Linked DNA regions of Homo sapiens. The protein of the gene in region 5 purifies or fractionates together with the protein of the main gene of each other region. This does not show direct contact. Each region holds a gene or a part of one and is shown on either strand. Other genes may lie near its edges.

Region 1 (4,025 bases), on a different chromosome or scaffold from region 5:
ATGGCCGTGATGATGATGGTGCTGGTGAGAGGAGGAGGAGGAGGAGGAGGACGAGGAGGAGGAGGAGGAGGAGGAGGAGGAGGAGGAGGAGGAGGAGGAGGAGGGGGAGGAGGGGGAGGGGGAGGAGGAGGAGGGGGAGGAGGAGGAGGGGGAGGAGGAGGGGGAGGAGGAGGAGGAGGAGGAGGAGGAGGAGGGGGAGGAGGAGGAGGAGGAGGAGGAGGAGGAGGGAGGAGTCGTCGTCTAGTTAGGTTTTGAAGATACAGCCCCTATTGCTCATAAGCAATAAGTGGCTGAGAACTCTAAAACCAGCAGTCATGCTAACCGCATGTACTGAACTTTGGAAGTTCATTTCTCAAGGCTCTCCATCTTATTATCCATTTCAGGTAAAGGTCTGAACTGATTAAGAACAGCTCAGCACCTTCTGGTTTGGGAAGAGTGGGACTGCCATTAATTGAGATAAGGAAGTCAGAAGCAATCTCAGAAAGTGTCTAGTACATGGTAGACACTCAAATATGTGAGAATTCAGTTTAACTGAACTCCCAAAATGAAGGAAGTAAACTCAATGTCCTGGTTTCCATTTGCTCTAATATTCTTTCAGTAACATTTGCTAACTACACAAAGAGACTTAACCATGACCACACAGTTTACTACAAGTGTTAAAAAAGAAATCTTACACTGGACCCAGCAACTAATCCTTACCTCTCAAAAATCATTTTCAGTTTTAAATCTACAATTCTTCTGGACATAGAAGAAATTTGCTTTGAAAATTTTGTGACAGCCTGAGGATTCTTAAACCCAAAGTAATTAACCCGTTCATTAATGATGTCATATTCCTGGAAGGTATAGTAGTGCAAATAGAACTCCCTAGGCCAAAATTAATTGAAAATTATAATACTTCACGATAAATTTTCAGAATGCAACAAGACTGAACAAGTCCCCCTAATAAAACAAGCCACAAGCCATCAGCATTTCTTAATGGCTTTTTTTTTTAACCTCAAACAATAAGTCCCTTCAAAACAATTTCAACGAAAAATGTGAATCTGCTTGAGAATGTGCACATCTTCCCTCAAGCAGACACTTTTCCTGCCAATTAGTGAAACTGAACTTCACTTAGGGAAGAATTGGGTGTCCTCACCTTTTGCACTTCTCATAGTGGTCCTCCGGGATTTTCTAACTCAGCACCCTGTCTCTAGCTCCACAAAGAACCTCAAAGTTAGCAGAAATACATTCAAAGGAATTCTCCTAAAATAAAAAGTTCAGATCCTTTCCTCCCCTCTGACTACTTTAAAATTTTATATGAAGCCTTAAGTAACATCTCTGTCCACACGAGTTTCCCTAACGCCCCACCCTAACCTGTGCTTTAGAAACTGCGCTTAACAACTTTCAATGTTGCTTTAAAAACACAGATGATTCAGAGAAGCTGATCGCACCGAATTCAGCAACAGGCAGTACTCTCTCTCCCTACTCCTATCCGCCAAAGGCCTTGAACCAAGCCAAACAAATCTGCTGAAATGCCAGCCAGATTCCCCGTTATCTCCCCGCTCCCTCCCCCCAGGGAGGCCAGGAAGCACCACGGCCACCGGCCACGGGGCCGAACAGAGAAGAACCGCTGCGAAGCACAACAACGGTTTTTTAGAGGCAGGAGGGTTCCGAGCCGGGTTTTCAGCCACCACCCAGGACCCCTGGAGGACGAGCCCGGACGACCCCCACACACACTCGGAGCAGAGCCGCACGGTCCCCCGCGCTCCCGGGGCTCCGCACGCGGATTAGCGGCGAGGCGGCGGGCGGCCTCTCCCGGGAGCCCCGGACGAGGGCCGCGGCGGGGGCGGGCAGTGCCGGATGCCGGGCGCCCGAGGAACCCAGCGTGCCAAGGATGGATGCGGCGTCCCCTAAAGCCGCAGAGCGCTCGGCGCCTGCCACACAGCCCCACGGGCGGGGGGCCCCGGCGGGGACGGCCTAGCCGAGTGGCCGCAGGAGGGAACCCCGAGAAGGGGCCTAGGACGCTGCCGCTTCCCAGTGAGCGGGCGGGGGCGGCCGGCGCGGGTTGCCGTGGGCTCGTTGCTCGTGTCACCTCCGAAACCAGGAAAGCCCCGAAGAGAGGAGTGGGAGCACGCAGTGGGGGCGGGGAGCCTCACACCGAGAGGGTGGCGGCCCCCGGGGGACGAGACCCCGTGGAAGAGGAAGAGGGCGCGACCCCAGCATCTCCCCACCGGCTCGCGGGGAAGGAGCCACCCGCTCCCCGCCCCCACACTCACCATGTAGAGGGTGAAGGGCAGGCCCAGCAGAAAGAGCCACAGGTAGAGGTGCAGCGCGTTCACGAAGGTGGCCTGGTGCGGGTCGTAGTACCAGCCCCCGCTGAGCGCGGCCCACACCCCCTGTCGGAGGATCTGCAGCGTCTGCGACCCCATCCCCACCCGGCGCCGCCGCCGTCGCCGCCGCCGCCGCCGCCGTCCCCGCCCCGGCCCCAGCTCGGCCTCGGTCGCCGGAGCCTGCAGCTGCCCCGTCTATCCACCTCCGGAGCTCCGGGTGAGCGAGCCGGCGCTTCGGCGGTCGCTGGTGCTGCTGCAGGAGGAGGAGGAGGCAGCAAACGAGGAGGAGGAGACCCGAGAGGAGGAGGCGGCGAGCGGCGGGGCGGAGGACGGCGGAGAGGAGGAGACCGGCCTTCTGAGAGCCGCCGCCATCTTGTCTCCTAACACCCGGAGCCGCGGCCCGGCCCCCGCCACCCGCGGCCCGCCAGCGCCCCCACTGCCGCCGCCGCGACCCCCGCCGGCCGCCAGCCCTGGGCCAGGCAGAGAAAGAGGCCCGGCGCCAGGGAGCGACCGAGAGGAAGCCGCGCCCCCTCCAGCTCCTCCTCTCCGCTCCCTCCGCCCCCTGGGCCGGCTACGGTGCGCGCCGCGCCTGGTCCGCCGCGGGCGCCTCCTGCCGACGTCCGGGAGAAGCGCGCGTCAACGCGGCCGGGGTTCAGGGCCCCGGGGGCTGCGGAGGTGGCTGAGACGCGGCTGGCTGGTCCGGAGGACCCCATTCTGCCCCTGGTAGGCCCCCTGGCAAGTTCGCCTACGAGTCTCTAAACGGGGTCTTTCTGACTCCGAAACTAACAGATCTTGACTCCAGAAAAGCGTCCTGCCTGTCATTTATGATATTTGTGAAAGACCTAGGAACAACTGAAGCTAACACCTGAGATACTGAAGGCCTGGAAGAGTTAGGTACGGCTGATGACACTGTTGAAAAGTCATAAACGCACCCAAGTTGAGCAAGAACTGTGTTGGCCCGTGTGTGAGAAAAAATAGCCACGTCCAGACTGGGAGAATTTACTACTTCCAAAGACAAGTTAATAGAAGCGGCACAGGACATGGAAGTATGGAGTGGACAGGTTACCATTTGTACGCGGTGATTGTATTTTTAAATGTGCTGTAACTAGCAGCCATTTTTATTAATGGGCCAATCTAAACAGGGTTGAAAAAGATTAACCGTGACGCCACCCCAAATTACAATAGGGTCTTGTAGATCTCTTTTTATAGCTGTAAAAACGGAATCATTCTTGGCTCTGTGTAATGTTTATAAGGCGTGTCTGATCTCACTGAATAAAATTTTATAGAAAAGTTTGAAATTTGAGTTTATTGAAGTTTGGCTTTTATGGCAATAAAAGTACTGTGTATTCCCAGATTACAGTTGCTATAATTAATGAGGGAAACAAGAGCCAAAGGAAACTGGTGATATTTTAAGAAGAGTAATGAAAAACCGTTACAATACCTCCCAGTGCCATACCACTTTATAGTTGCTCAGACACTATCACACCCATTCCATTCAGACCTCAGGACAACCCTTTGAGGGCAGCATAGCAGCTATTGTTATTTTATGGATGAGAAAACCTGTAAACTCAAGTAAGTGATTGGCCAAATGCTTATGGCCACTTATTGCTCATAAGCAATAAGTGGTTGAGAACTCTAAAACCAGCAGTCATGCTAACTGCATGCACTGAACTTTGGAAGTTCATTTCTCAAGGCTCTCCACCTTATTATCCATTT
Region 2 (3,500 bases), on a different chromosome or scaffold from region 5:
CTTGATTTTGTTACACTTGGTTGGCAAACTACAGCCTCAGAGGCAGTTGAAAAATAGAGTATATAAGAATGAGCAGGCCAGGCATGGTGACTCACACCTATAATCACAGCACTTTGGGAAGCCAAGGCGGGTGGATCCCCTGAGGTCAGAAGTTCGAGACCAGCCTGGCCAACGTGGTGAAATCCCTTGTCTACTAAAAATACAAAAATTAGCTGGCTGTGGTGGCACGTGCCTGAAGTCTCAGCTACTGGGGAGGCAGAGGCGAGAGAATTGCTTGAACCCGGGAGGTGGAGGGAGCCGAGATCTCACCATTGCACTCCAGCCTGGGCCACAGACACAGACTCCACCTCAAAAAGAAAAGAAAAGGAAAAGAAAAGACAACGAACAAGCAAATCTGTGTTCTTGCCCAATCTTACTAAATTGCTCTCTAGGACAGTATAGGGCTTTACTATTTTATCATGTTGCGTCTTGGTTTCCCCATTAAAAATAGAAGTCTGGGACTATACCCAAGGATCACATTGATTCCTTTCCATTTTCTCGTTCTGTGGTTTGGGTAGTTTTATGTTTCCCCATAATACTGTGTTCTTCTTTTTCTTTTCTGGGAGGGGGCGTTCTGTAGCAGCAGGTGTATCCAGGGCTCCTTTAAGAGACAGTTTTTTTTGTGTGTGTTTGTTTTTCCTCCTGTCTAATTTTGGCTTTCTTTTAGATTATTTTATATTCTGGAGACAAAATTTATGATGACTACTATCCAGATCTGAAAGGCCGAGTACATTTTACGAGTAATGATCTCAAATCTGGTGATGCATCAATAAATGTAACGAATTTACAACTGTCAGATATTGGCACATATCAGTGCAAAGTGAAAAAAGCTCCTGGTGTTGCAAATAAGAAGATTCATCTGGTAGTTCTTGGTAAGTTATTTTTATTTGTGTTAACGGGTTACTGAGTAAGAGAATGATTAGTCATAGTACTGTAGTAGCAGCACTTGTATAAAATAAAGCTTAATTTTTTAGAATAACAATTTTAAACACTTGAAGTACTTCTATGTTGGATAGCATCAAATATAAAACTAGCTTTTGGTTTTGGATAGGAAAAGTAAGAAGTGATCAACTTCTTTGTGAAATTCATAAGAGTTTGAAAATAAGTGAACGAGTATTATGGTATGGAGGAAGAACCCTAAGCTAGGAGTTAGGAGATCTAGGGTTTTTGCCTTGTCCTCAGAATTTGCCCTGAGAATTATGTAGAACCATGTTTCTATGATGAATAATTTAAGCATTTAGAATGGAGATGAAGAAATATGGAAGAAGGAATATTGAATTCAAGTAAGGCCATTAGGCATCACATAGTATTTAAGCTTCTTGGCATCACTGTTTTTCATCATTAAAGTGAGGAGATGAGACATTCACTGATATCTTATAGCCCTCTCTGTAATAGTTAATAGGGAGGTAGTGTAAACTGCTTTGTAAACTGCCAAAGACTACAGAGTTTATTATCCTTCTCTAGATTCTGTGATAATGTCTACAAGCACTCTTAATCCCTTCAAATTGAGAAACTGAAAGATAATAGTTCATAAATATACTTCTAAAACCATACTGTGGTAAGCTTTACACAAAATGTACATTGGCTACCATGTAGAAAAACATAGCTGTCTAGCTCTCTGCTTAATGACAGTAAATTCCCCTGTCCTCATGTTTTAGGGGACACTTGGGGATTGACTTTCATAGGAAAAGCTGATGCTAGAATTGTCTAGCATGACTGGAAATAACTGATCAGGGCAGGCCTCCCACATCAACATTTACCTCATTCCTTCTGTTTAGAGAACTGATTAGGGGTGGGGTAGAATATTCTAAAGAATACTCTTTATTTTAATTTTAATTTAATTTAATATTATTTTATTTGAGATGGAGTCACACTCTGTTACCCAGGCTAGAGTGCAGTGGCACAATCTCTGCTCACTACAGCCTCTGCTTCCCAGGTTCAAGTGATTCTCTTGCCTCAGCCTCCCAAGTAGCTGGGATTACAGGCATGCACCACCACGCCTGGCTAATTTTTGTATGTTTAGTAGAAACAGTGTTTCACCATGTTGGCCAGGCTGGTCTCAAACTCCTGACCTCAGGTGATCCACCCACCTCGGCCACCCAGAGTGCTGAGATTACAAGAATACTCTTTAGGAGAGCAATGTTCAAGATGACTTGGGCACCCAACACTTAACTACTCCTCCTACAAGTAGACCCAGCACTTAACTATTACTCCTAGAGACTAGGAACAAGAGTGGGGATTTTTGTGTACCTTCATGGCAAATTCATGCATTGTCTTGGTAGATAGACTCTGCTGGCAGCATCATTGAATGGGGACCTGAAGAGGTCCTGGTGAAATGCATCATTCTGAATCGCACTAACTAAAAATGTTTCTTGTGGTGTGAAAGTAAGTCAATCTAAAAAAGGAACCAGGAAAAGGAATATGGTAATGTTGGAAATTTGAATTTTCTGTGTCTTCATTGAGTAAACATGGAGTAACTTTTCTTTGTTATAAATGTATAAGCAAGTGAAAGATTAACACCTGGTCCGAATTCTTTTTTTTTTTTTTTTTTTCTTTTTGAGACCAAGTCTCGCTCTGTCACCCAGGCTGGAGTGCAGTGGCATGATCTCGGCTCACGGCAACCTCCGCCTCCTGGGTTCAAGCAATACTCTTGTCTTGCCGTCCTGATTAGTTGGGACTACAGGTGCCCGCCACCACACCTGGCTGATTTTATTTTTGGTAGAGACGGGGTTTCACCATGTTAGCCAGGATGGTCTCAATCTCCAGACCTCGTGATCTGCCTGCCTTGGCCTCCCAAAGTGCTGGGATTACAGGTGTGAGCCACCGCACCCAGCTACCTGGTCTGAATTCTTATCACAGACCCAGGAATTCCTGAGATTATAACCCTGACTATACTTTCTTCCAACACTGCTCTCTAGGAACTATTAAGTTGGAAGATGTATACGGAATATTAACTGGTTCATGATATGCGAAGCAGAAGATATTTGATTATCGGAATTATTTATTGTGAAACCCCTGTTTGATGGGACAGTTACACTGGGATTAATGGGGTTGGCACATATTCCCAGAAGAGTTGTGGACAAGCATGTTTGTGTGTTTGTGTATTGTCTGGATCCTGTGGGACCAGGTTCAGGGTCACATTTGCAGTTCTCAACTGAAGAGAACATTACAGCAGAACATGTCCCAAAAAGGAACCTGAGTTGGGTGGTAGGGGATGGCACATGATGTGGCTCAGTTCACTCATGGCAGGAGCCGTGACTGCCCGGCAGTAGGAATGGCCTTTTTATATTAAACTTTGAACCCCAGCATGTCCTAAGAATGGGTAAGTGGGAAGCATTGACACAGTTCACCCTGAGTTACTCCTGGGGAGAATTTTATAGCCAAGTCAGCCTTCAGTTCAAACCAAGGAGGGGGAGAGGGGATAAACTGGGGATGAGAGGAGAAAGCAGGGAAGTGATTGC
Region 3 (3,500 bases), on a different chromosome or scaffold from region 5:
GTGAAAACAGCAGCTGGAAAGTGATGGGAAAGTTTCCGCAAGAGTTGAGAAAAGGAATCCTAAATACTTAATATTAATTCTACACAAATCTCTCACTGACCCATGAAGATCGTACACATGGGGCAGCCTCCAGGCAGCCCAGCTAAATAAAATAACTGAGCAGATATTCCTGCTGCCCATTGTAGGAGAGACAGTTTGGAGTTTGAGTACAATGAAGTTAATCAACAACTGTCTTAGTCGGCTTGGGATGCCACAACCAATACCACACAGACTTGGTGGGATAACAACTGAAACAAATTTTCTCACAGTTCTGGAGACTGAAAGTTCAGGATCAAGATTCCAGGAGGGCCAGTGTCTGATGAAGGCTCTCAGACAGCTGCCTCCTCACTGTGTCTTCACACAGTGAAGAGGGAGTGAATAAGCTCTCTGGTATCTCTTCTTCTAAGGACATAAATCCTATCAGACCCAGGGCCCCACCCTCATGACCTCATCTACCCCTGATTACCTCCATCTCCCAAAGTTCTCATCTCCAAATACCATCACACTGGAGGTTAGGGCTTCAAGATATGAATTCTCGGGGAGCGAGGGAGATCACATTCAGTACATAACAACAACAACAACACACACACACACAGAGCACAGGATTAAAAGAGAACCCAGAGGCTGGGCGTGGTGGCTCACACCTATAATCCCAGCACTTTGGGAGGCCAAGGCAGGCGGATCGCAAGGTCAGAAGTTTGAGACCAGCCTGACCAACATGGTGAAACCCCATCCCTACTAAAAACACAAAAATTAGCCGGGTGTGGTGTCACGCGCCTGTAATCCCGGCTACTCAGGAGGCTGAGGCAGAAGAATTGCTTGAATCTGGGGGACAGAGCTTGCAGTGAGCTGAGATCACGCCACTGCACTCCAGCCTGGGCAACAGAACAAGACCCCGTATCAAAAAAAAAAAAAAAAAAAAAACAAAAGGTAACCCAGAGCCTCTACTAAGTAACAATCCCAATGTCCAATATACACTCCAAAATGACTAGATATGGTAATGGACAGGAAAATGTGACCCATATTCAAAAGAACGGTAATCAAATTAAAAGAAATTGCCTACTAATAAAGTTCATGTGCTCAAGAAAAGAAAGTTAAATGACACTAAAGACCTAGAAATTGGCTGGGCGCAGTGGCTCATGCCTATAATCCCAGCACTTTGGGAGGCCGAGGCGGGCGGATCACGAGGTCAGGAGATTGAGACCAGTCTGACCGATATGGTGAAACCACGTCTCTACTAAAAAAATACAAAAAATCAGCCGGGCGTGGTGGTGGGCGCCTGTAGTCCCAGCTACTCGGGAGGCTGAGGCAGGAGGATGGCGTGAACCCAAGAGGCAGAGCTTGCAGTGAGCCAAGATGCACCATTGCACTCCAGCCTGGGCAACAGAGTGAGACTCTCTCTCAAAAAAAAAAAACAAAAACAAAAACAAAAACAAAAACAAAAACCAACACCTAGAAATTCAGAGTTATGTGATAAATTTGTACATGGGTCAACATGCCTGCCAAGGGTGACCAACATGCCTGCCAAGGGTGACACAGACAATGACAAATAAGACTAGCCTAAAGCAAAATGTTGAAATAAGCTGGCACTCTCTGACTTCCCCTATCAGAGTTCAATACATTTGACTTTCTGACACTCTTACAGACCCTACTCTCTAGTTCCATTCTTTAAAAAAAAAAAATATATATATATATATATATATATACACACACACACACATATACATAATTTTATTATGTCACAGAGTTCCACTCTTACTCTAAACTGGCTGCCAACTACTCAACTAATTAATAATTAGATATTACTGACATTTTAGATACGAACCCTATGAGAGTTTTAAAGATATTATTGAAAAGCATCTATAATTCTGTAACAATTGGTAGAAAAGTTCTATATATTTAAAAACTTAAGGCCAGGTGCAGTGGCTTATGCCTGTAACCCCAACACTTTGGGAGGCCAAGGCAAGAGGACCACTTAAGCCCAGGAGTTCAAGATCAACCTGGGCAACAGAGTGAGAAACCCATCTTTGCAAAAACAAAAAAAAAAATTTTTTTGAGACGAAGTCTCGCTCTGTCACCCAGGCTGGAGTGCAATGGCGTGATCTCAGCTCACTGCAACCTCCACCTCCTGGGTTCAAGAGATTCACCTGCCTCAGCCTCCCGAGTAGCTGGGACTACAGGTGCGTGCCACCACGCCCGGCTAATTTTTGTATTTTTAGTAGAGATGGGGTTTCACCATGTTGGCCAGGATGGTCTCGATCTCTTGACCTGGTGATCCACCCGCCTCAGCCTTCCAAAGTGCTGGGATTACAGGCATTAACCACCGCACCCAGTCAAAAAAATTTTTTAATTAGCCAGGTTGGTGGTATGGGCCTGTCATTTTAGGTACTTGGGAGGCTGAAGTGGCAGGATCACTTGAGCCTAGGAGGTTGGGAATACAGTAAGCCATGATGATGTCACTGCACTCTGACATGGGCAACAGAGCAAAACACTATCCAAAAAAAACAAAACAGAAAACTTGGACGCTTGGACGTTCACACTGCGAGTAAGCCATATCAACCCATTATCTATCAGTGAGCAGGGTGTTGATACTTTTGTTGATACATTCATGATAGGTTTCTACAGGTTTTATTTCATTTATATATATATATATTATATATATGTGTATATATATAATATATATATATATATATATATATATATTTTTTTTTTTTTTTGAGACAGAGTCTTGTTTTGTCACCCAGGCTGGGGTGCAGTGGCGCAATCTGGAGTCACTGCAACCTCCATCTCCTGGATTCAACCAATTCTCATGCCCCAGTCTCACAAGGAGCTGGGATTACAGGCGCACACCATCACGTCCAGCTGATTTTTATATTTTTAGTAGAGGTGGGGTTATCTACGTTGGCCAGGCTGGTCTCAAACTCCTAGCTTCAAGCAATCCTCCCGCCTCAGCCTCCCAAAGCACTGGGATTACAGGCAAGAGCCACCATGCCCAGTCTTTTCCTGCTGCTTTTAACAAAGAGTTACACCCATCCAGAAATCTATTTAATGACTTTTCTAATCTACTAAGGATTGCCCCAGAGTATGTGTCTCTGCACTTGTCAAAATAAAATGCATGACCGGGCGGTGGCTCACGCTTGTAATCCCAGCACTTTGGGGGGCCAAGGTGGGTGGATCACTTGAGGTCAGGAGTTCGAGACCAGCCTGGTCAACATGGTGAAACCCTGTCTCTGCTAAAAATACAAATATTAGCTGGGCATGGTGGCGGGTGCCTGTAATCCTAGCTACTCGGGAGGCTGACAGAGGAGAATCACTTGAACCCGGGAGGCAGAGGCTGCAGGGAGCTGAGATTGTGCCACTGCACTCCAGCCTGGGTGACAGAGCAAGACTCCATCTCAAAAAATATAAAAATAAAAATAAAATAAAATGCATACAGACTAATGCGTGTAATCCCAGTACTT
Region 4 (3,500 bases), on a different chromosome or scaffold from region 5:
GCAATCTGAAAAACAAAAAGGAACCATAGACCACCACAGGGGACTCAGAGATTTCAGCAGATACTATTTGCATCCACAGATAAATCAACAAAACCCACCAACAAGCACACAAATAGCCATTGTCTGTTTTTAAATTAGCCCAATCTAACCAGAATATCATGGGGATGAGAGAAAATAGAGGAAATATTTAGAGTGCACTCACAAGAGCTTTTCCAGCTTCATTTCTCTCTCTTGGTCCTCTATTTTCAGCTTGTTATAATCAGAACTAAGCTTCTCCTGTTCCAGTTGCAGTTTCTGATTCAAACTGAAATTGAGAGGAAAAAGCAATATATTCCACATCAGTCTGAAATTCTGAGTCATCAGGCTAAAACCGTGGTTCTGTTCCAACCCTATTAGCTCTGTACAATAAAGGCAGTAATTCTGCAGGATTTGGAGGGATCACAGAACAGCCTCACAGCTTCCTCCGTGCCCAAGTGAAAACTAATTTCTGGGGTGCATCTAAGAGTCATGAAACATAAGGCTTTGAGGATGTATTTATAGTTTGCTTGTGCAAGAGCTTCAGGGGAAAAATAATGAGATGGGAGAAGGGCTGATATTTTAAAACAGAGAGCCCATGTCAGAAGAACTCTGCTTCCTCGGCCCCTCGGATGGCATGCAGTCACTTGGGGAACCTGATTTGGCCATTTCCACCTTCCCTCATTTCTGGTCTGATGTTCTAAAAACATCTCCCAAGTCCGAATGCCTCACTGATACAGGGACAGTTCCTGCCCTCGAGGAGTGGGCACAGAGAGAATTATGAAGAAAAGACAGCCTGGGCTCTGCTGCAAACAGAAACTCGCCATCTGGTTGAGGGTGTTTGGTCAACATTTACATCAGCCCAGGACTCATAAAACCTTTCCTAGAGCCACGCCTAAGCGCCTGTAAAGGAACAGCTATGCACTACCAGAAGGAAAACCCAGAGTCCATTTGAAAGGCACAAGCCAGGGAAGCTTCCCCCTCCACCTAACTCACTCACCAACCAACCCTCTTTCTCCCTCTTCCTTCCCTCCAACCTCCCCCTCCCTTCCAGTCGAATCTGTGAGGGTGATTAATCAGAATAACGAATGTGAGATATCCCTGAAGGGGAAAAGCACAACATGGCAACAGCAGGGGATGGCCGAAGAGGAGAAAAAGAGGGAGGAGGCTAAGTGCCTTCCTTCAGGAACTGGGCACCGAGCCTGGGTCACACCATTTAGACTTTTGCTTGGGTTACCATTCTCCTCTTTTAAAATGCAAATGCACCTTTCGAGCGGCTCACACACATTGAAAAGGGACTTGGATCAGTAGTCTGGAGAATTAAAGTCTAACTCCAATCTGATTCCTATTTAGCAATGTGACCTTAAGTAAATCATTTCGCCTTGCTTCCCATATAGAAATCTGTTTCTTCATCTACAGAAAGCGGGAGGGGAGGGAACAGTGTAGACCCTGGGTGGGGTGGGGGTGGGGAGGTCAGCATTTCAATATAATTGGTTTTCTTTGTAATCCCAGGTCTTTTATGCAGAGCATTTGAAAACATTATTCTGAAGGAGCAGAGGGCATGTCAGAGGCTGCGACAAGGCAGGAGCACAACATGAGGGGGTGTCACCTGAGAGAAACTGCAATGATGCCATCCTGGTGGCAGTGCCACAGGTCACTGGCACCTCTACCTGCACAGACACATGACAGTGTGGGGCCCTAAGAAGTGAGCACATGGAACCAGGTGGCTGGGTTGCCCAGTGAGCGTGTATGTGTAGGGGGAGAAGGGGAGGCGGTGGTGCTGTCTTCTCTCGAGTGTTTATTAACCTACTAGAATCCTGTAGTCAGGACCAAATTTTTTTTTTTTCTTTTCTTTTCTTTTCTTTTTTTTTTTTTTTTTTGGTGCTTTCATTACAGATGCTCCCCCCCATCTACTGGGGCATGCGTCCATCCAGCGGAATCACCTATGTGACCCTGGCCCTCGGGGACTAGGAGAGGCAGCTGGGCCCGCCTGCCACCTGCCATGCCAGGGCTCCAGGAGGCTCAGCTCCAGATCGGAGAACAGACCTTGGAAGCAGCCCGCCCAGCCTGCTGTGTCACCAGGGCAGTGCCCACAGGGCAAGGTGAGCAGGGCCCTCGACTAAGAGCCACATCCTTCCAGGCTTCCCCAAGAGGACCGAGGCATGACCACCCCCACACCCCTGGTGCCCTGGGCCGACTCACTCCCGAATCTCATCAATGATTTTCTGCTTCTCCTCAATTTCGTCTCGGAGTCTGGACAGCTGCTTCTGGTGAGCTTCCCGGTGGCTCTCCATCTGCTGCTCCAGCGCCTTCTGCATCCCAGGCCAAGAGAAACATGTCATCTACTCGTTGGCACTCAGCCCACTCTGTGACAAGCCCTGGATCTGGACCTACCTCCTTCCCTGTGTCCCTCAGATGTCAGATCCCAAAACTGGGGGCATTTCTGGCTGTTTTGCCCCCAGGACCCGGCCTTGCTTTATTGGGATAACAAAACCCAAGATCTGTTATCAAACCAAGTTGGCCCTAGAAGCCAATTAGCCCACCAACTAAATAAAAAGTGTTCCCTTGACCTTTTACAGCCCAGCCTGAGCTTCTCCAGCCAGGTCAGTCAGAGGGCACCAACCTCTCCCTATCCACGTAACCTCCAGATAAGCCTGTAACCTGTGTGAGCTGCACTCCCTCACATGTAAAACTGAGATAAAAGCCCCTGCCCTGCCCACTGCACAGATTTATGATGATGTCCAAAGGAGACCTTTTGGCAACAGCACTCTGAAAACAGGAAAGGGACTCCCACGACGCATGATTTTATTCTGCTGGCTGGAGCAAGGGCATGCCGTGGACGTCTTTAACTGTGGACCTTGACTCAATGAGGCTCATAGTTTGCCTACAACTAATCAAAATCCTACATCTTCTCCTGTCTCATTTTATTCACCTAAAAGTCTTACTCCACAATCAATTTTCCTTTACAGTTTAAAATGTGACCAAAAGAAAAATCTCTATGTTTGAGATAGAAACTCAAATTTGGTGTGTTCTGCGTAAAGGTTGGAGGAAGAAATCCTTAGAAGTTAACTCCGACAAAAGAGCCCATGCAGTGATTGGGGGTGCTACCCTTTCCCTCTTCATCAGGAATGGTGAAGACAAAGGTATTAACGCAACTTAACCATTCTCTACAGACATCTTGGGGTTTCTGGACTTGTTCATTTCTAAGCCAGGCTATACTCTGAGATCGACTCTGAATGCCCAACAACAGCCCCTCCCCTGTCCCTTGCCATATACGGATCTGAAGGTGACAGATTTTCCTAGAACAAGCATTTCCAATCCAAATGCATCAAATGCACACTGGGCTTGATGGAAGGGGCAGCCACACACACCTTCATTTCTTCAGCATCCTGCAACCGCGTCAGATGTTCCTTCTCCTTATCCTGGAAGCTGACTTCGTGCATTTTTTCTGTTTTGAATTTTAAATGATGATTTAAGACTTAACT
Region 5 (3,500 bases):
AGAGTCTCTCTATGTTGTCTAGGCTGGATTCGAACTCCTGGGCTCAAGTGATCCTCCTGCCTCAGCTTAGTAGCTGGGACCATAGACAGGCACCATGGTGTCTGGCTGGGTTTGCAGGGTTTTTAAAATACCAAAGCACACTATGAAACATACTCTCTCTGTTTAGTGGTCTAATGGATGTGCTGACATTGTCTTGAGAGACCTTTCATTTCAAGAATACCAAAATTACAACCAGGATAATGTTTGAGGCCAACTTTAACTCGACCTAACTTTCTCTTCAAAGAAGTTTTTCTTTATTAAATAGTAATATTCATGATCAGTGAAGGAGCATACTCACCAAGTGAACATAAGGCACAAAGTATCCAAAAAGTGCAAGTGGTATTCCAACTGCCCACACTGCATAAGCTGTCACCTTGAAGATGGCAAAATTGAAAATTTTTTTTGGAGGACTGAACTTTTTCCTGGAAAAGAGGGAGGATCCGCTACCTCCACTCTCTTTATCTTTGGTACTGGTAGCAAGAGGTCGGTAAGTAAAGCCAGCCAGAAAGAGAACAAACATGAAGATGCAGAGCACCCTCAATGTGTAAAAGAGGCCCACGCTGTCAATCAGAACCCTTAAGAGCAAAGGCAGCAGGATTGTGAAGACACTGCTGCCAGCAGTGACAATGCCATTCACCAGTCCAAGGCGCTTCTTGAAATAGTGTCCCAAAATGACCAATGAAGGCTGGTATGCAAAGGAGCAGCCGCAGGCAAATATGATTCCATAGGTAAGGTACAGAGGCTCGATGGAACTGTATAAAGATGAAAAAGATGGAAAGCAGCTTTCAATATTGTTACTGTGTGCTTGGTAGAATAAAATCTTATAGTATAAGTGGGTTTTTGTTCATCAACATATTTTCTACAAGTAAAAGTTAACCAAAAAAAAAAAAAATTAACCAAAATAGAGGGAAAAACTCAGTAAGTCAAGCATGTAGCACTAAACGTATTTTAATTTAATCTGAATATGTGAAAAATAACCATTAAGGTCATCAGTGATTTTGTTCAGCCACCTCTTTCTGTGGATTTCAGGTGACGCACACAGCACTGAGTGAGAACTGTGCTCTCCACAGCTCAGAAATAAAGGTTGGTGCCAGGAAGGGTAAAATCAACAGTGATTCAATTAACAAACCAAAAACCTAGTCTCAATGAAACATTTTTTAAAAAAGTTAGAATTAACTATGAAATCTAATTATTTCATGGAGTTTTTCCAGGTACTTACCAAACAAGGTAGTAAAAGAAAAGGCCGCATTTTATATTTTTTCCCCAAGGTTATGTCAGGAACATTTGCACAGAGGTGCAGTTGTGCCTGTTTTTGCTGGCCTAAGGGCTGTAGACCAACCTTCGCCCTGTACTGCACTGTTCTCAGTATTGTGCAAGACAACAAGAAATCATATTCTGACTACAGAAAGACTTAAATTAAGTGTATTCCTTTAGTGATCCCAGTTTGTAAGCTGTAAGGCCATGCATGTGTCAAAAGAATAATGGATTAAATAATCTTACAGTTTAACCAAATAATTGCACATTTCTTAGGAAGATAAAGGATCATATCATTATGTTCTTTGAAACAATTATGGTAAGGAATAAAACTAGTTAAAGTTTTTTGAAAAGGCTATCAGTAGTAAAAGCAAACAATTTGTTAGAAAGTAAGATTAAAGTTGGTTAATAATTAAAATTTTGGATAATAATGCTAGTCTAGCAACATGCTGAGGTAATCATAAGGAACTCTAGAATCTGATAAAATTAAGGCATGTTGGCAATCCTCTCTCTGAGATGCCCTTCTCCCTCTACTAATCCACAGCTAGCACCACCTTCAAATCAGGCTCAAGAATCACTTCTAGGCTTTCCCAAATTAATCTCACCTCACTCTGATCACCCTTTACTGAATCTCCACTCTTTGTTTAGCCAACATATTAAGCAACTACTGTGTACCAGATACATTGTGGAAAAGAATATTAAAAATCTGGTCCTTGGCCAGACGTGGTGGCTCACACCTGTAATCCCAACACTTTGGGTGGCCAAGGCAGGAGGATGGCTTGAGACCAGTCTGGCAACATAGCAAAACCCCATCTCTATTTAAAAAAAAAAAAAATAGCTGAAATTAGCTGGGTGTGATGGCACATGCCTGTAGTCCTAGCTACTCAGGAAGCTGGGGCAGGAGGACGGCTTGAACCCAGGAATCCAGGCTGCAGTCAGCTATGATAACACCACTGCATTCTGGCCTGAGTAATAGTGAGACCCTGTCTCAAAAAAAAAAAAAATGTGGTTCTGCCTTCAAGATATTCATAGTCTGCTTAAAGAAACAAGACATCTATCCCAAATAATAATAACACAGAACAAAACAGAAATTAATACTTCATTCATTCTGTATCAGTTTTTCCACCTAAGTAGTTTTCCAGATAATTGTAACTTACTTAAAGTGCTTATTTGTTTTTATTTAACAATTTTAAAGAAAAAAATTTAAGTCTATTATACATTTCTCTCTGCCTTCTTCAAAGTGTATATTAAAAATACTGTTCACAGCAGAATCATCAGGAACATCAGTTCCTGTACAGTGGTATCACTGTACTGTAATGCTCTCAGTTGGAAAACCACAGAGCTTCTCCCTCCTGCAGAGTGAAGTATATGAGCTTTATGATGGTATTTGCACTACTGCTGAACCCTTTTCACTTCCAGGTTTTCCCTTCAGTAACACATGGTTCCAGTTTGTGACGTTTGGCAGCCAAATAAGTGCAATGTAAATGAGTAAGGCTGTCGGATACCAATCATATGTGCAAAAAGGATTCAGAGAAGGGACATGGGTGTGATTGACCTAAGTTGTTGGAGAAGGTTTTCCTCAGAAGGCAGAACTGGAGCTAGAGGAAAAAATGGACCTGCCACTTGACACTCAGAATCTATACCACATTTCCCCTTGCTCCTGTATCTTGCTCTCAAGTTTCAGTAGCCTTTGATCAGCAAGCTAAATAACGAAATTTAATAGAATATATGAGAATATTACATGTAGTAAGGGAATTTTGGTTTCAATAAATTTTGTTTCACTTAGAGGGTAGAGAAAGAGAGACAGAACTGGGTCACATCAAAATATATGTCATAATTTTTATTGCTCAGTGGTCAGAAAAATTTGAAAAACATTGCTTTGTATGTGTGTTTTGTTAACAAACTAGGTAGTAGATTACATAAGTTGTCTACCTCTCAGTCCCCTCTCTACCACAACTAGAGTTGTAATACATTCGGCAAGTGGTAGAGCCACAAGTACTGACAATAGGTACCTGGAAGCTTCCAGATCAAAGAAGCTATCTGATGAGGTATTAATAACATTAATTACATTAATAATAATGTAAATATTATGTTGCTGCTAAAATAAATCATCTCATGGAATTACCTACAAGAATCTTATTCCAAATAAAACTTTTTTCTTTAAAAAACAATTTTAGAAGAAAAAACCCATAAAGGTACTTTAAAGA
Region 6 (3,500 bases), on a different chromosome or scaffold from region 5:
AAACTCAAGGACCACCATCTTAAGAGAGCTGTCCCCACAGAGAGCCTTCCCGCCCTTCCACGCAGGCTGCGGAAGTCCACAGGGGAGAAACACACTGGGTGTTCTGAGCAGGCCTGGCCCCTGCCTGGCGGGGTGGCCAGCGAGGCTCTCAGAGACCCTGCCACCCTCAGCACCCGGGGCGGGGAGGGCCCCAAGCACTGGGAACATAGCCCGTGGTCCCCCAGTTTCCTGCGCACAGAGCCGCCCTATCGATGGCACGGAGAGTCTCCCCAGCCCAGGCCCCAGGCTACCCTGGAAACTAGGCCTGAGCCCACCTGCCCCGAGAGCGGCTGCTGCACGTGCCCCCAGGCCGTGGGAGGCCCCATGCACGCAGCAACTGTGTGACATCCCAGGTGCCCTGCTGGTCACATGGTGCCCTGACCTGAGGGGCAGCTTGGGGTGTCTTCCTGCAGCCCCTCGGGGCCCTGGAGCTTACACAAGAGCTCTCAGCTCCACAGCTATCAACCAGAGTTTTCTAAAGGACCAAATTCTCAACCTGGGCCTTAAGCAAACAGGGTCCTGGACCAGGATACGAGGTGGGCGAGGTGGGCGATGGGGCAGGTTACCTCCGAGTCAAACCTTCCGAAGTTGATGAGGCCTGGGCTGGACAGGTCCCACATGTTCCCGTGGTAAATGCTCAGAACAAAATTCAGGGTGAACGTGGAGATCATGGAAGCAAAGAACTGCGGCAGAGGGCAGGAAACCAGCGCCCTCAGAGCCACGCTCCCAGCCCAGGGCTCACGGACCAGCAGGGACCATCGCCCCTCCTGTCAGCCCCGGGGCCAGGAGTCTGCAGACCCCGCCCAAGGCAGAAGGGAAGGGGCTGGAGCCAGGGGTGGGCGCACTGTGCGGGCAAGGAGCGGCCCAGCCCTCTCTGGACTTGCCAGTGGAGAGCAAGAGGGGAAGGTGGGGCAGGGCTGGGTTCCCGGCTGTTTGATCCCCTACCCGGGAGCCACCCAGGGCTGGCAATGGTGCCCAGGACCAAGGGCGAACTGGGCAGCAAAGGCAGGACCGCTGCTTTGGGCAGGACCAAGGCCTGACAGACCCACAGGGGGTCCAGCTCCAGCCGCAGCTCGATGGGTGGCCCCAAGGTGGACCCCATGGTGGGAAATGAGAGCGCAGCATGCACCCTGATCAGGAGGCAGCCATCAGCAGGAACTTACGATCCTCCAGGTCAGGAACTGGTTCCAGAAGGACGCACCCTCCTCCAAGCTGAACAGGACCCCACCTGGAAGGCAGGCGGCCGGCTCGGGTGCCAGCTGGACACAGGGCACCATGCCCACCACCAACTCCCTCCCCCAGGCTCCAGGGAACCCAGACCACGTCAGAAAGAAGCTAATGGGGTGGGCCCCAGCCACACAGAGAGGGACCCTGAGGGAGGTCTGAGGGCTGGACCCAAGTACACTGCCGGCCGCTTCCAAATGCCCCGGCCGTGACTCCAAGCCTCTGCCACCCTCAGCGGGCACTGGGCCTACAGAGAGGAGACCGTTCCTTCCAACACACAGGGCGAGGGCAAAGCATTGGACCCGGTGCGGCCCTCCTCACCCACGGGGGCTCCAAACGCCGCTGACACTCCGGCCGCAGCCCCTGCGGAGACGAAGTCCCGCTTCTCTGTGTCTCTGCGGAAGTACTCGAAGATCTGCAACAGGGACAGACCAGGGTCGGGGCAGGTTCCTTGAGGGCACGGCTCTCAGAAAGGGAGAGCAACTGCCAGGACAGGGGCTGTGCAGGGGAAGGGGCTTTCAGGACAACCGAGTCAGCAGCTCTGATTCCTGAAGAGCACCGTGCTGCAGACCACGGCAAGAGACAGCAGGGTCAGCACCACCACCGGCAGCCCAGGGAAACACGCAAACACCCAGCCAGGAGCTCCACTTTCCAGCGCACGCAAGATTCCAAAAACCTCTACCCTCTAACGAAAAGCGCACGGATGGAAACCCAGCCTTGCTGTTCTTTGTCCTGCGGGACGCTGCCTGCCTCTAAATTCACACATGGCCGGCGCGGTGCCTCACGCCTGTCATCCCAGCACTTTGGGAGGCCGAGGCAGGCGGATCACCTGAGGTCGGGAGTTTGAGACCAGCCCGGCCAACATGGCAAAACCCCATCTCTACTAAAAATACAAAAAACTTAGCCAGGCGTGGTGGCGGGCACCTATAATCCCAGCTACTCGGGATGCTGAGGCAGGAGAATTGCTTGAACCTGGGAGGTGGAGGCTGCAGTGAGCTGAGATTGTACCACTGCACTCCAGCCTGGGCAACAGAGAGACTCCATCTCAAAAAAAAAAAAAAAATACAATCACACACAAATGCAGCTCAATCCCCATCAACATGCTGGGGACTTTTTTGGGGAAAAAGTGTTCCAAAGTGTGTCTTGACAAATAAACAACAGGTGGGCACACTTGGTCTCAGGTTCTGCACTCCTCTGAGAAGCCGCTTGGAGCCACAGACCCTCCCACGGGAAACACTGATGCACGTGTGGCAGGGGACCCAAGGAGGGAAGCAGCGGGCCGTAGGGAGGCCTTGCCGGGCAGGGACTGTGCCCGCTGGCTCTGGGAGCCACCCGCCAGGCTGTCCTCAGATGGGGCTGGGGCTCTCGGCCTGGGGGTGCTGAGGGAAGCCCATCTCCCTGAGTGGTGCCCGTGCCCGTGCCCATGGCATCTGGAGCCCACCCACACAAGATTTCAACTCACCTTGAAATCTCGTTTCAGTGACGTTGACCTTCCCTGAGAGATCCCGGCGGCAATCACTGAACCTGAGTGGATCATCGGCCCTTCCTGGAGACCAGAAGGACCGGTGCTCAGAGACACGCGTGACGCGGCCCTTCCTGGAGACCAGAAGGACCGATGCTCAGAGACACGCGTGACGCGGCCCTTCCTGGAGACCAGAAGGACCGATGCTCAGAGACACGCGTGACGCGGCCCTTCCTGGAGACCAGAAGGACCGGTGCTCAGAGACACGCGTGACGCGGCCCTTCCTGGAGACCAGAAGGACCGGTGCTCAGAGACACGCGTGACGCGGCCCTTCCTGGAGACCAGAAGGACCGGTGCTCAGAGACACACATGGGCGTGGCGGCCCTCGCGGGCCCGGCGGCCTCAGGCTCCAGCTGGAGTGGCCATGTGCACTTTGTTACCTTTCCCACGGCCAGGCCCCCGACCACGGACAGGATCACACCGGACACTTTGATCACCAACGTCTGAAACACAGGGAGACGCATGGCCTCTGATGAAAAGGCAGGCGCTGTCTTTGGACCTGAGCCGTAAAACAGCACACACAGCCCCGATCAGGCAGAGTGGCTGGGACACGGGGCCTCCGGGAGGGGGCCAGCACCCCCAGGCTGGGTCTCCCCATGGCCACAGTGGAGCTAAACAGCAGCCAAGCGTCCCCCGCACTCACTCGGGGGACCTGCCCTCTGTGGCCTCAGCACTGAGCAGGCAAGGGGTTCTTTCGTTTCCTTCCTTCCTGAGG
Region 7 (3,152 bases), on a different chromosome or scaffold from region 5:
TCCTTTAAACAAACAATCAACAACAATAAAACACAGAAGTCTGGTGGTGTTGGATCCTAGACCAGAAGTACGGGCCATTAGGAATCAGTGAATTAGTTGGATTCCATACTACAGTCAGACAGAGATAGCTGCTGTTTGTTAAGCACAGGTTATTGGTCATAAGTGGATCATAACCAAAGAAATGTGGCTGGAGCACCCATATCCCTTATTTTTGCTGGAATGCAAAGCAAACAAATGCCCAACTGATGGAAATGCGATAGTAGCAATCTCATTTCTAGAAGACAGTTTTCATACAGTAAATTGCTATGAATGCAGTCTGCATGACTCTACAATTACTACAACACTAAATAAAAGTCTCTATCCTATGGCCTTATTATCCAAGGATATATATTATCCAAGGAATATATAACCTTACATATATTAATATATATAATATATATATATTATAAGATTTACTTAAGAAGTATTGGCCACATTCAGCCTCAACCAAATTTTGGGTCAATCAGAACTGCCTGGAGTTTCAGAAGCTAAACTATTTGTGATGTTGAGAACCCAACTTAAGTTTGATGTCGGAGGATCATTAGATTCTCTGCTCCAAAATGAGGGAACACAAGTAAACAAAAATAAAATCCAAATGAGTTAACAACACCCTATAAACTGAACTCCTCGAATGTGGGTAACTGCTTTGCTGAACAAGAAGATTCACTTTTGACATGTGCTAAATTCCCTTTTAGGACATGGAGATCTAAGGAGTCACGGAGATAGAAAATTTGTTAGCCTAAGGAAGAATAGAAAGTACATTGTATTCTGGCTGGGAGCAGTGGCTCTCGCCTGTAATCCCAGCACTTTGGGAGGCCAAGCTGGGCAGATCACTTGAGGTCAGGAGTTCAAGAACAGCCTGGCCAACATGGTGAAACTCTGTCTCTACTAAAAATACAAAAATTAGCCAAGCATAGTAGCAAGTGCCCATGATCCCAGCTACTCAGGGAGGCTGAGGCAGGAGAATCACTCGAACCCGGGAGGCGAAGGTTGCAGTGAGCCGAGATCACTTCACTGCTCTCCAGCCTGGGCAATAGAGTGAGAACCTGAAAAGAAAGAAGGAAGGGAAGGGAAGAGGAGGGGAGGGGAGAAGAAAGAGAGAAAGAAAGAGAGGGAGGGAGGGAGGGAGGGAGGGAGGAAGGAAGGAAGGGAGGGAGGGAGGGAGGGAGGAAGACAGAAAGAAAAAGAGAAAGAAGGAAAGAAAGAAAGAAAAGAAGAAAGAAAAAAGAAAAGAAAGGAAAGAAAGAAAGAAAGAGAAAGAAAAAGAAAGAAAGAGAAAGAAAGAAAGAAGGAAGGAATTCTAAGTGAAGTGGATTTGGTTAGGAAACTTTCTGATCTAAACTTCAGCCTTTTAATAGGCCAATTTGAGGTCATCTTGTTATAGTTATTTTCATTATATATTCTGCCTTCAAAATAGGTCTATTTATTATACATTATAATGACAGCATCATACAGGCATTTCAGGGGTACATAATAAATGTCAATCCTCATAGCCAGTTCTGAGAGATCTCCTGGTGTCACTTTAATTTGTAGCAACATGCCCAAGACCACATATCAAGTGAGAAATATAATAGAATAATAAGTCTAAAGTTGCCATCATTGAGGTTTCTATTCAGCTATTTATCTCTGAAACACTTAGTAATTAATTTTCTTATTATATAAAAGTGTTTCATGTATTTAGCACTTGAAATAAAACACAATTTGTGGAGACAGTCAATGTGAATAATTCTATATTCTAAAAATATATCAATCAATCAGAAAGCTGCCTAATATTTCCTTCATTTTGGGCTAAGTACAGCAGACCCTCATTTAAGTCATATTTTAATAGCAAACCAAGAAAATCAGCCTACTCCCTTATGCCCACCCAGGTAATAATAAAGCTTCCATTGAGGCTACCAGCAGTGCCTGAAAATCTCACAACTACTTTTGTGCTCAGAGGACATTACTACAACAGAGAACATTATTTAGAAAATTACATATAAAATTAACCATCCTGAGGACTATAAGGATATGCAGCTATGTTAGGAACAAGTGTATGAAAAATAACAATTTCAGGATAGACTAGTTTTCTTGTGTAAAAGTTCTAACATCATTTGCAGGGTTCTTTCAACTATACCATACAGCCCTTTTCAGTGTGTGTGATTACTGTGAAAAAATTAAAAAATATAAAACATAGTTAATAACATAAGGCATAAAAGAATGATAAATTTATGTTAGCTCAACCATTTACTAAGGGTCAAGGATGTCCTCACTGTTTAAAAAAACTTAAACGCTAGTAGGAAAGACAGAAATACAGCATCTATTTATAATACCTTTTGATACATGTGAAAATTAAGAAGTTTGTTTCAGTACTTTAGAAATACAATGAGGGAATATCCGATCTAGCCTGGTCCAGGAAAAGGGAAGAAGACTGAGGCAGCAGGAAAGGCTATCAGGAAGTAAACCCTCAGGGAAGTGTGAAGACTTAAGCAGGTTAATGTTAACTGGCAGAGACCAGGTAGATAAAGACATGGTTTTATTTATTTTTGTTTTACTGTTTCAGATAGCATGCCACCAGTAGAAAGAATATTAGTGTTTATTATCTACATGACTATATTTTTAGGCAACATATTTTTTGTGCATCTTATCACTTTAGTCCATTTGCATTACTATGAAGGAATACCTGAGACTAGGTTATTTATAAAGAAAAGAGGTTTATTTTTGCTCACAGTTCTGCGGGCTGTACAGGAAGCACAGTGCCAGCATCTACTTTAGGCAAGGACCTCAGGAAGCTTCCACTTATAGTGGAAGGAGAAGGAGGAGCAGGCACGTCACATGGCAAGAAAGGGAGCAAGAGAGAGAATGTGGAGGTCCCAGACTCTTTTAGTTAATCAGATCTCAAGCAAACTAACTGAGTGAGAACTCACGTTACCAAGAGGGTGGCAGGCACTAAGACATTCATGAGGGATCTACCCGCTGTGATCCAATTATCCCCACTCGGCCCCACCTCCAACACTGGGGACTACATTTCAAAATGAGAGTCAGGGGGACAAAAAACCCAAATCATTATCAGTGATCATTGTTCATTTATTTGTTTCAAACTCTCAACCAAATTTAAGTAAATGGGTCAGTAT

The links.
Region 1: the proteins of SLC16A10 (region 5) and PCNX1 purify together in Homo sapiens (affinity purification with mass spectrometry; one large-scale study listed by BioGRID and IntAct). This does not show direct contact.
Region 2: the proteins of SLC16A10 (region 5) and CXADR purify together in Homo sapiens (affinity purification with mass spectrometry; one large-scale study listed by BioGRID and IntAct). This does not show direct contact.
Region 3: the proteins of SLC16A10 (region 5) and TRPM7 purify together in Homo sapiens (affinity purification with mass spectrometry; one large-scale study listed by BioGRID and IntAct). This does not show direct contact.
Region 4: the proteins of SLC16A10 (region 5) and KIF5C purify together in Homo sapiens (affinity purification with mass spectrometry; one large-scale study listed by BioGRID and IntAct). This does not show direct contact.
Region 6: the proteins of SLC16A10 (region 5) and CLCN7 purify together in Homo sapiens (affinity purification with mass spectrometry; one large-scale study listed by BioGRID and IntAct). This does not show direct contact.
Region 7: the proteins of SLC16A10 (region 5) and CAV2 purify together in Homo sapiens (affinity purification with mass spectrometry; one large-scale study listed by BioGRID and IntAct). This does not show direct contact.

The regions. Positions count from the first base shown.
Region 1 is NC_000014.9:70,906,234-70,910,258, reverse strand, and holds the start of PCNX1 (pecanex-like protein 1), read right to left. Parts: upstream 2,801-4,025; 5' UTR 2,409-2,800; coding exon 2,256-2,408; intron 1-2,255.
Region 2 is NC_000021.9:17,551,043-17,554,542, forward strand, and holds part of CXADR (coxsackievirus and adenovirus receptor isoform 1 precursor), read left to right. Parts: intron 1-706; coding exon 707-911; intron 912-3,500. UniProt on the Homo sapiens protein: Component of the epithelial apical junction complex that may function as a homophilic cell adhesion molecule and is essential for tight junction integrity.
Region 3 is NC_000015.10:50,676,798-50,680,297, forward strand, and holds part of TRPM7 (transient receptor potential cation channel subfamily M member 7), read right to left. Parts: intron 1-3,500. UniProt on the Homo sapiens protein: Bifunctional protein that combines an ion channel with an intrinsic kinase domain, enabling it to modulate cellular functions either by conducting ions through the pore or by phosphorylating downstream proteins via its kinase domain.
Region 4 is NC_000002.12:148,997,227-149,000,726, reverse strand, and holds part of KIF5C (kinesin heavy chain), read right to left. Parts: intron 3,464-3,500; coding exon 3,387-3,463; intron 2,328-3,386; coding exon 2,218-2,327; intron 305-2,217; coding exon 203-304; intron 6-202; coding exon 1-5. UniProt on the Homo sapiens protein: Microtubule-associated force-producing protein that may play a role in organelle transport. Has ATPase activity. Involved in synaptic transmission. Mediates dendritic trafficking of mRNAs.
Region 5 is NC_000006.12:111,174,503-111,178,002, reverse strand, and holds part of SLC16A10 (monocarboxylate transporter 10), read right to left. Parts: intron 792-3,500; coding exon 338-791; intron 1-337. UniProt on the Homo sapiens protein: Sodium- and proton-independent thyroid hormones and aromatic acids transporter.
Region 6 is NC_000016.10:1,454,529-1,458,028, forward strand, and holds part of CLCN7 (H(+)/Cl(-) exchange transporter 7), read right to left. Parts: intron 3,229-3,500; coding exon 3,166-3,228; intron 2,810-3,165; coding exon 2,726-2,809; intron 1,679-2,725; coding exon 1,585-1,678; intron 1,268-1,584; coding exon 1,203-1,267; intron 723-1,202; coding exon 606-722; intron 1-605. UniProt on the Homo sapiens protein: Slowly voltage-gated channel mediating the exchange of chloride ions against protons. Functions as antiporter and contributes to the acidification of the lysosome lumen and may be involved in maintaining lysosomal pH.
Region 7 is NC_000007.14:116,502,738-116,505,889, forward strand, and holds part of CAV2 (caveolin-2), read left to right. Parts: intron 1-3,152. UniProt on the Homo sapiens protein: May act as a scaffolding protein within caveolar membranes. Interacts directly with G-protein alpha subunits and can functionally regulate their activity.